Linked DNA regions of Homo sapiens: region 1 is linked to region 2. The links come from fine-mapping of genetic effects on gene expression. A gene starts in region 2. The other region holds a variant in brackets. All regions are shown on one strand. Distances are from middle to middle.

Region 1 (5,374 bases), 120 kb before region 2:
AAAAGAACATTTTGTTAATCATTACTCATTATCAGTTTGGCCAAAGAATTGTTTTGAGTTTTGGGGTGTTTTTGTTTCATTTTGTTTTGTTTTGGCATCTGGGTGGCACAGGCTCAAGGCCAATTTCATCATGTAAACATCCAGTTTACAATTCTAAGTGGTTTCCCTGGGGTAGAAACCCTCAAAACTGTCCTTCTGAACTTCCAGTGGGATCTATTTCACCTTGAGCCTATCTTGGCATTTTTAGTCATCCTCTGGACTTAGTGAAATTGAGTTCTCCATGCCTCTCTTCAGAGCTCAGGCTTTCTGGCATATAGCTGTTTCTCTGGTACTACCATTTTCATGTACATTTGCCCCAAAATGGAATAATCATTGAGAACAGTTTTGAGCGTTCTTCAGCTCCTTTGCCTCATGCCCTAGTCTCCAGGGCTCAGCGTGTCTTTGGGAACAGGGTTATGCTTTGCAATACTACTACTGGCTCTTACTTCTCTTCCTCAAGATTGATTCTTCGAACAGTGACCTTATTTAATTCAAACAAGCCATGTTGGTTCTCCTGACTTCAGCAAATGGAAAAGTCCAGTAGGAAGTACACATTTGCTTTTATGGATGACAGATATGCATTACTGATTACTCTAATCCTCAAAGGTACTTAGAAACACTGATCAAGTCTTCATCTCCTGTAACAGTCCTGGGGAAATCACAAGCAAAAAGCATTTGCTTAGGTAAGTAGGAAGCAATTGTTATTACTTCATTTTGTTTTGCTTCCTGAGAGGACTTGAAAAACTGAGAGACTCCCACTCATCTGATATGGGACATAGAAAAAATAAAAATATTCTTAGAACCCACCACAAGGCAAAAGCTAGTCTAGCCAACACCATCTTGATTCTTTAATAAGACCAACTCATTCAGATCAAAGTCAAATTGTACTTTTCCAGAGGGTAAACTTAAGACAATATTTTTCAAACTTTTGTTTGGGCTACAACTGACAGTAAAAATATATTTTACAACATGACATGTATGATGTTGCACACACACATGTTTACCTGAAATACGTTTTATGAAACATAACTTACTCTTGCTATATGTTGTAAACTCAATATTTTTGTCTGTTCTATTTCATTCCATTCAATTGTATTTTGTTATTTAAAAAATGCTAGTTGTGAAACACAAAATTGATTTCTTAAGACACAACTCACCATGTGAAAAACACTCTTGAGGGTGGGGGATACAGAAGTGAATCCTTCTCACAAATTCTCTAAGTCCTCCCTTTTTTATTGAAGATGGCTAAAATTTACCATTGAGGATGTCTTTGCTGTGGTTAAAAAAAGTTATCTTTTATTAAAATGTAAGTGAACCCTGAATGAGTAACAGATTACACCTGGCCCATCATTTATACCTCTATGAAGTGGAGAAGATCACATTGCACCTCACATCACAAATATCACCTCATATACAGTAAAGAAAGAAAGTCAGGTTGGATGAGGGAAGGGCTGGAAATGAGAACAGGAAGCTCTGAGGCAGGAGCAAGTAAAGGGTTCCTGAGGAAGAGGATAGGTTGCCTCAGTGATTCTGGGGCTTTGCCCCGTCCCCATACATAGGTGGGGAGAACCCAGGCTGAAGGCATCCTCAGTCCCCCCAGGGGTCCCTTGCTGCCCTCTCCAATCCTGCACATATCTGGGGCAGGAATGGAAATCAAAGCATGGAAATGGAAGGGACACCACCAGAGCACAGTGAGGTCTGCAGGGCTGCAACCAGGAGCAGGAGGCTGTACCTGGGCCACCTCTTCCCCTTTACTGCACTCCCTCACTCAGGGAAGGCTCTTCCCCTTCTTCTCCACCTTGATCACGTTTTCCTAAGAAGGTCCCAGCTCTGCCAGCCCTTCCAACAGCACCATCCTAATATGGTTTGGCTGTGTCCCCACACAAATCTCATCTTGAGTTGTAGCCCATAATTCCCAGGAGCTGTGGGAGGGACCCAGTGGGAGATAATTTAATCATGGGGGCAGTTTCCCCCATACTGTTCTCATGGTAGTGAATAAGTTTCATGAGATCTGATGGTTTTATTAGCGGTTTCCCTAATAAAAAATTCTGTGGCTCTGAGGCTCCTATATGCTAATTCATAAATTCATAAAGAATACAAGCTGCTGATGACAGCTACTATGTCCCCAGACCTTCTCCTCTCCAGTCTAAATGTCCCTGGTTCTTTGAGGATTTCCCCAAGATAGCAGCATTAGCAATAATATAGAATGGTTTGAATTATCCCACCAGTCTAGTTGCTTTCCTCACAACAACCTCCATTTGGTCTATCATCTCCTCTAAACATGACCCCCAAAACAAAAGCCCAACCCCAGGTGCACTACCTGATGCACCCTAATCTTTATGTACACGGATGTATCCTCCACTGTACCAGTGTCTCTGCAAAACACAGCCTGCATCTGCCTTCATATTAACAATGACTACCCACTCATACTTGGAGCTTATGGAGTTATTTATCCAGAAATTCCTTTTACTTCTTGAAAATTTCAAACAACCCTCTCTCTTCCTCCCTCCCTGTAAGCATGTTTAAATGGCTATCTTGAGAACTGCCACTTTTTGACATGATTCTGTCTCCCCGGCTGCAAAGAGAGCCCTTACCAGGTTTCCCATCAGAATTCTTCCTCAGGTCTTGTCTGGCTGCATCTGAAAGAGCCAGCCTCTTCCAAGTCCACTAGCAAAAGTTAGAAGGGATGATCTTCAGAAGCGTTTAAGGGCCATAATCCTGCCCTGTGCAGAAAGATAGACTGTAGCAAGAGAGAATAAAACACAGAAGAGAGAATGCCACCCAAAGAGAGGCCAGCCCAGTCAAGAAACGGAGAGAACCCAGGGCTTTTGTGTCCCTTGCCCATTTATCCCTGAAACCTAGCAGCCTTCCCTGCCCTTCCCTCAGTCTGGTTGTTCTTGGATTCTGAGAGTCAATAAATTCCCTTTTTGCCCTTTTGCCTAATCCCAGTTGGATTTTTGTAAGTGGCAACCAAAAAATTCCTGACTAATACAACCACTAATTTTTTCTTCCTGAGTATTGCCGTGCTGTTCCTAAACCAAATATTC[A/G]CATCCTGTACTTACATGTTTTTGAACCCAAAGGCAAGATTTCACATTTATTGCTGTGAAATATCATCTTGTTTTCTTTGATTCGTAATTCTAGTATAGCTGGTGGCAAATTTGCACACACTACTGTCAACTGCACTAAGAAAATGTGGCTTTTGTCTATTTTTTTTTAACAGAGTTAGTCACCCTCATAAGCTTCATAAGTCCTTGCTGGTAACAGACACACACACACACACACACACACACACACACATACTTTTCTGTAACAATATTACATTCAAAAAAGACTTTTAAGCTGGAAGAAACAGTTTATTTCTTCTGAGTTGTCAGTCCTTGGGAGCACTGCAGCCCCAGTTCTCCAAAATATCAACTGGCTGAAGGAGGGCATGATGAGACCCCTTATCTGTGGCAAAGGAGCTCCAAATCTAACCATCATCCTCTGATCCCCACTGGCCTACATACCATGGAGCAATTTGTCTGGTCTTGTCCCTGGGGTGCAGAGGGCCCCATCTGGGCCTTGGGGCATCCTACTGGCATTCACAGCTGGAGTCATTGGCCTTGGCCGTTTGCCTCTGGTCACAAACTCACCATATGCTATTGTCAAATAAAAGCAAATCCAGAGTTAGTAAGAAGAGACTTCATTCAAAATAATTATTGCAAAAGGAGTAAAGGCACTATTGCAATAGGGAAGGTGTCCTATGGTAACAGGGAGAGCACTGTGATCACACATTCTACAAGTATCTTAAGAGTTAGTTTTCAAAGGGAATGCTTCCAGTTTTTGCCCATTCAGTATGATATTGGCTGTGGGTTTGTCATAGATAGCTCTTATTATTTTGAAATACGTCCCATCAATACCTAATTTATTGAGAGTTTTTAGCATGAAGGGTTGTTGAATTTTGTCAAAGGCTTTTTCTGCATCTATTGAGATAATCATGTGGTTTTTGTCTTTGGCTCTGTTTATATGCTGGATTACATTTATTGATTTGCGTATATTGAACCAGCCTTGCATCCCAGGGATGAAGCCCACTTGATCATGGTGGATAAGCTTTTTGATGTGCTGCTGGATTCGGTTTGCCAGTATTTTATTGAGGATTTTTGCATCAATGTTCATCAAGGATATTGGTCTAAAATTCTCTTTTTTGGTTGTGTCTCTGCCCGGCTTTGGTATCAGAATGATGCTGGCCTCATAAAATGAGTTAGGGAGGATTCCCTCTTTTTCTATTGATTGGAATAGTTTCAGAAGGAATGGTACCAGCTCCTCCTTGTACCTCTGGTAGAATTCGGCTGTGAATCCATCTGGTCCTGGACTCTTTTTGGTTGGTAAACTATTGATTATTGCCACAATTTCAGAGCCTGTTATTGGTCTATTCAGAGATTCAACTTCTTCCTGGTTTAGTCTTGGGAGAGTGTATGTGTCGAGGAATGTATCCATTTCTTCTAGATTTTCTAGTTTATTTGCGTAGAGGTGTTTGTAGTATTCTCTGATGGTAGTTTGTATTTCTGTGGGATCGGTGGTGATATCCCCTTTATCATTTTTTATTGTGTCTATTTGATTCTTCTCTCTTTTTTTCTTTATTAGTCTTGCTAGCGGTCTATCAATTTTGTTGATCCTTTCAAAAAACCAGCTCCTGGATTCATTGATTTTTTGAAGGGTTTTTTGTGTCTCTATTTCCTTCAGTTCTGCTCTGATTTTAGTTATTTCTTGCCTTCTGCTAGCTTTTGAATGTGTTTGCTCTTGCTTTTCTAGTTCTTTTAATTGTGATGTTAGGGTGTCAATTTTGGATCTTTCCTGCTTTCTCTTGTAGGCATTTAGTGCTATAAATTTCCCTCTACACACTGCTTTGAATGCGTCCCAGAGATTCTGGTATGTGGTGTCTTTGTTCTCGTTGGTTTCAAAGAACATCTTTATTTCTGCCTTCATTTCGTTATGTACCCAGTAGTCATTCAGGAGCAGGTTGTTCAGTTTCCATGGAGTTGAGTGGCTTTGAGTGAGATTCTTAATCCTGAGTTCTAGTTTGATTGCACTGTGGTCTGAGAGATAGTTTGTTATAATTTCTGTTCTTTTACATTTGCTGAGGAGAGCTTTACTTCCAACTATGTGGTCAATTTTGGAATAGGTGTGGTGTGGTGCTGAAAAAAATGTATACTCTGTTGATTTGGGGTGGAGAGTTCTGTAGATGTCTATTAGGTCTGCTTGGTGCAGAGCTGAGTTCAATTCCTGGGTATCCTTGTTGACTTTCTGTCTCGTTGATCTGTCTAATGTTGACAGTGGGGTGTTAAAGTCTCCCATT
Region 2 (5,374 bases):
GGCGTGGCAGGCGTGGCAAGTCCGCAGCCGTTGGACACACGTGCCCTTTTTCATAATCGGCAAAGCCTGCGCCCCGCCTGCTTGGCTGGTAGGAATTCGGCACAGACAGCCTGGAGTTCCAGAGCTCAAAATTTGGCCATGCATTCCCACTGTCAAACACCTCTCGCCTCTTTGCTCTAAAGGGTGAGTCCGAGGTGGCCAAGATGGCAAGGCGGTGACAGCAGCGCCATTATCGATGGCTTCTCTGTCCACTCTCACCTGTTCCTGGGGCCTTCGGCCTCAGGTTGCGCTGTCCCCTACGACCAGCGCCCAGGTGCTCGGCCATGCCAAGTTGTGGACTAGCCCGGCGCCTGGCTCAACTCCGCTCCCCTTCGGTCTCATCCGCGTGGCACTGGGGTCTCGGGGAGCTTTGCCGGGATTGCACCACTCACATTCCAGGCGCGTGAGCGCCAAGGGGGAGCAGAGACGGGATTCCCTCATCGCAGTGCTCCTAATCCCTGACTAGAGGGAGGAGGGATCGGCGCTATACCGGCATCTCAGTCCGCCTTCCCTCAGATTCTACCCTACCGTAAAATGGGCCACACTGGCGATTACACGTCCGCGTCCCCCCGCTCCCCGAAGCCATAGCCACCATCCTCAGCCTCGAGCTCTTTGTCCAGTTTGGGTTTTATTCCAACACCCAAAGACCCATGGAGAAAACTTGGGGGACAGGTGGAAAGAAGGTTCAGCGCTCGTTTCTTCAAAAGGCACTCCCGCAAAGCTTAGCTCTGGGCGCATTAGAAACTGCGTTGCAGAACACTCTGGGAGAAGTGAGTGTCGCCAGAATTCAGACACACAGGGGCATTTTTGGTGGAAACCACAGAAGCTCGTTTATAAGGGGCTGGAAGGGAAATGAAAGGAATGAGAAGAGTGAGTCAACAAGCCTTTAAAAGAAACCTGGGGTCTGTGGAAACAACAGTCAGAGAAACCCCAAGAGCGGGCGAGCTAAGTGGCGACGCCTCGCTGCGAGGCGTCCGCGGACGCTTCCGCACTAAGTGGGGGCGCACGCTGGCAAAGGACTGGGGAACAAGTTCTTTCCGCCTCGGATGCTTCAGACCCTGGATGGAGCCAGGCACTGGGAGTGCGCCCCCTAATCACCAGCCCGGCGCTGGCAAAGTGGAAACTGGGAAGAAAAAACATCGAAGTGTTTGACAGCACCTGTTGGACCTGGGCACGCAGGAGCTACAGACGCCCTCTCCTCCAACCCCTTCACCTCCCTGGGACCCTCTACGTACACCGCGATGGGCGGTCGTCAAAGGTTGTCGCAGCCACACGGCGCATACCTGAACGAGTGCCCGCGCGCACCCGACCTCAGCGCCGCAGTGGGGAGTGGGGTCTGCAGAGTGGACGAGTGTGCAGGGAGAGCCGCGGAGAGCGGTTGGGTTAGGGCCCGGGGCCCGGGACGCGCCCCTGCTCACCTCTCTCACTGGCCTGGATATTGCGCACGATGTCTTCCAGATCCAAGTCTTTGGTCTCGTCGAAACTGTAGATGGACGTGTGCAAACCCTCCTCCTGGAAGACCTCGTGGACCCCCTCGAGGGTGAAGTAGCAGTTCCGCTCCAGCTTGTCGTCGCTGTAGACCAGTGCAGCGCGGCTCCAGTGGTGGTGGCGGAACAGGGCGAGCATCATCTCGCCCATCTTGGCGTAGGCGGGCGCCACGCGCGTGAGGTGCGAGTACTCAGAGTCCTTGTGCTGGAAGCCAGCGGCCAGCGCCCCAGCCGACAGCATGGGCAGGTCCCAGTGCGATGCAAGCCGGGCCACTGGCGCTGCTGCATACTCGCACACTGGCCCCAGGATAAGGTCTGGCTTGGCGCCCCGCGCCGCCGCCACGCGGTCCACCAAGCTGAAGAGCGCACGGTTCCCACAGTCTGAATCCTCGTAAGCCACCTGGAAGCGAGTGCCCGGCGGCAGAAGCCGCCTCCCAGTCCCGTTGCCCTCCACGCTGCGCAGAGCATACTCGATGGCCGGCCGCACCCGGGTGAGTGAAAACAAGTACGAGTCATCCTGGGGCAGTAACACCAGCACCTCGATCTTCTGTGGCGGCAGCGCCTCTCTCTCCTGGCGTCCGCCGCCTATGCCCGCGCCACCGCCGCCGCCGCCAACGCCACCGCCACCGGTGCCGCCGGCCAGCAACGCCCAGCCGAGTAGTACGCACGGGGAGAAAGTGAGCACCAGCAGAGACGGCATCGTGCCGCAAGAAAGAGCTTGCCCTCGCCGCCGCCGACTCGCCCTCTGCCCCCCACCCACCCTTCCTCTTTCCTCCCCACTCTTCTCTCCAAGGTCCCTGCGCCCCCTTGGGCGCTTTAACAAAATAGAATACCCCCTTCACTAATGCGCCAAAAGATAGAGAGGAAGCGTCCTTCTCTGCAATGTCACTAGTTTTTCTTAAAAAAAAAAGAAAAAGAAAAAGAAAAAGTTCACCGGGTGTAAACCTGTGCGTCTGTAATATACATATATATATACTTGTATATATTCGCCCTCCGTTTATACATATACTATTTTGCTTAGAGGTGGCTTCTTATTTGGGCGTTGCTAAGGTTGCTTTTGAAAGCGTTTTTGTAGAAGAAAAAAAAAGTTAGACTTGTCCAAGTGTTTGTAATTGACGGTGCATCTCCCTCGCATTTGATCTCATTGATTCGCGCCGGTTCCTGGATCCATAGCCCGCGTTTAAATAGCGTGGCAGCGGCTGAGCGTGTTACCACACATGGCGCGCCGAGGCCGGGCTTGTGTTTCCAGCGGGTGGGGTGGGTGGGGGTGGGGAGATGTGGGGGCTGGGCTGGGGGAGTCTCTCATTAACATTCTTACATCAGGGCTCCTCCCTGCACCCCTTCACTACCCATCGCGCCCCTGTCCCTAACCACCACTCCCCGCAGGCCCTCTGCCTTTTCCTTAAAGCTGAAATCGCCCACGTCTGCACCGGCAAGAGCCCCCACCACGCCGCGTGCCTGTGCGATCACCGCCTCTCCCTTTCCACGCTCTCCAGCTCCTGGCTTCAAAAAAGGAAACGTGCTTTAAAGTAGAGAAATGCGCGCGCGCACGCACACATACACACACACACACACACACACATATACACACACACACCGTGCAAAAAAAAAAAAAAACCAGGACTGGGGGAAAGGGATGGTTCTAGAAATTGTGGTTTCGGTGCAAAAATCCTTAGGTGCCGCTTGCTCTCACCTTTCTCGTTCTGGCCACATTCCCTCCTGAAGCACCGACGCGGGGCGAGCACCTGACCTTCCTGGTCCCTCGGCGCAAGGTCAGGGAACAAGGACCAAGGTCCCAGTGCAGATGGCTCCATCGCGGACCTGGTGTGCCCGGCTGGCCCGGGCGTCACCTACACCCCGCCTTCCTCAGCCCCGCGCCAGCCCCCTCCCCCTGGGCCACGCAGGTTTGCGCTGGAATCGCAGCGGTGCCGAGGTCACAGTGTCCCAGCTCACGGACCCTCTGTCAGCGCACTGAGAGCAGGAAAGTGAAACTTGTTGCTCCCAAAGGCGAGGGAATGGTTCAACTTCTGGAGGTGTCACAAAGCTTGGAAAGCATCCCCAAAGCGTCCTCGGGGCTTTGTTTGCTAAACCAGGTACCTAAATAAAGGGACTGTCTTTCCCAAAACGTTCCCGGTAGGTCCCCCGGGTACGACACACGCTCCCCTCCAACCTGAGTGCTCAAAGATCCAACCGCTCCTTCTCTGGAGCGCTCGAGGCACTGTGCTGGGGTTCCGCGACTCCAAGAAAGGTCCTGCCTCGGAGACCCAGTCCTCCCACTGGCCATAGCCACAGCAGCGGTGGAGACCGGAGGGAAGCGGCTCTGGAGAAGTCCGTGACCAGAGGAGCATCGCGGGAGTCCGCCGCGCGGCGGGGCGGGTCAAAATGGAACTGGACCTTCTGTGCCTACTGCAGCCAAGTCATTTGCAATGTGAACGGGCTACACTGGGCGGGAGAATTCTGACAATTAAGTCCCGCACATTTAAATACATTGAAAATGTGTTAAAATGGTCTTTCATTTGACTAGGCGTCCGTGTCCACAAATTTCTTTTAGTCTCAGACCGACGCCCTCTTTCGGCAGAAACTTGCACCCGACTCAACCCGGGTGCCGCAGTCCCAGACGCTGCGTTTTTTACTCCGAGGCCTTTAACGCGCTCTGGTTCTCACTTGCGACGGTGAAAAGGCAAACTGGGGTTTCTGGGGATATGGCAACTTCTGGCGTCAGCGCTCGCCTCCCTTAACAGCACTCTCCTTATCGCTCTTTCTGGAACCGTCAATGTGATTATGGGTAATGTTTCAGCTTCTGGGTCATTTATATTCAGATTATGCACTGTGATCCCGAAATCTTCACTGTTAAGTAGGAGCTTCTAATTCCTGCGAGAATTTCCATTTATTTAATTAGAGCCACTAACCAGGAGCAAAAGAGACATCTGTATAAAATTTAATTCCACAAACAGGGTAATCCACACACACTGGAAATTGAGATTTAGTGCTCCACAGCAATTAAATCTTTCCTGAATTTGCAGAAGGGCAGGCGTTTATGGCAGCACAGATTAAAAAAAAAAAAAAAGAAAAAGAACAACAACAAAACAAGAACTAAATCATGAATTCCAAGGGTCTTAATGGATTTCGAAACTGGTTGCCAGGCACTGTGCTGGGGTTCCGAGACTCCAAGAAAGGTCCTGCCTCGGAGACCCAGTCCTACCACTGGCCACAGTGGTAGGAACCAGTGTTTCCTATTACTCTGCGGTATGCCCTGTGTCTGCGGAACACCAGCCAATGGCGATATGATTCTGCCGCGTGTGGTGTGGGTTTATGCGGAGAGTCTGGGGTTTCAGTGGCACCGGTGTGAACGCCTGTCCCATCCCAGATGCTACCTAGCCTCGCCTGCAGTTCAACAGCAGGGCAGTGCGCTTAAGTAAGGGTGAGTGCCCGTAGCCTCTCCGCAGCTTTTGGACAAGAGCTCTCGACTTGCAGTTTGTCACACTCAAGAGCAGCAACAAGACCAAGCTGCGGAAGGGAAGAGACCCCAAACCAAGCAGCGGAACGAATTAAAAAAAAAAAAAAAGCCAGTGTTATGCTTTTGCTGAAGCTCAAAACACCCCTTAAGAATTCCAGTGAGCAACAATTAGGGTTTTTAAAAAACCTTTTCAAATGAAAAGAGTCACAAGATTATGGGAAGACCCACCAAGTAATGTAAGTGTATGGATTTCAAAGTTACGGGTTTGTTTACTTTCCATCAAGTTAGAATTTTTGCAACCAACTGAAAGTTTGTGTAAATAAGTAGTTCTAAATCTTCAGGCCAGAAGACTTAAGTCACCCAGCCTGACACCCCTTACTCTCTAGATGAA

Alleles and levels. Positions count from the first base shown, and alleles are read on the strand shown. Sizes are in standard deviations (SD) of each study's normalised expression.
As copies of A replace G in region 1, the expression in fibroblasts of the gene that starts at base 2,682 in region 2 goes up (small effect, 0.15 SD a copy in GTEx).

The links. PIP is the estimated chance that this variant, and not a neighbour inherited with it, causes the effect.
Region 1: its variant is the best candidate, but not a certain one, in a credible set for the expression of NPR3 in fibroblasts (GTEx, PIP 0.88).

The regions. Positions count from the first base shown.
Region 1 is chr5:32,826,453-32,831,826 of GRCh38, reverse strand. No RefSeq gene overlaps it. Among named protein-coding and RNA genes, the nearest start is that of NPR3, 120 kb to the right of the region's middle. The variant A/G (reference allele first, on the strand shown) is at 3,087.
Region 2 is chr5:32,708,629-32,714,002 of GRCh38, reverse strand. It overlaps NPR3 (natriuretic peptide receptor 3), which reads right to left and starts at 2,682. Exons shown (of 8, transcript NM_001204375.2): 1 at 1,458-2,682. The coding sequence starts at 2,226. RefSeq lists a silencer at 1,426-1,720 and an enhancer at 1,596-2,321.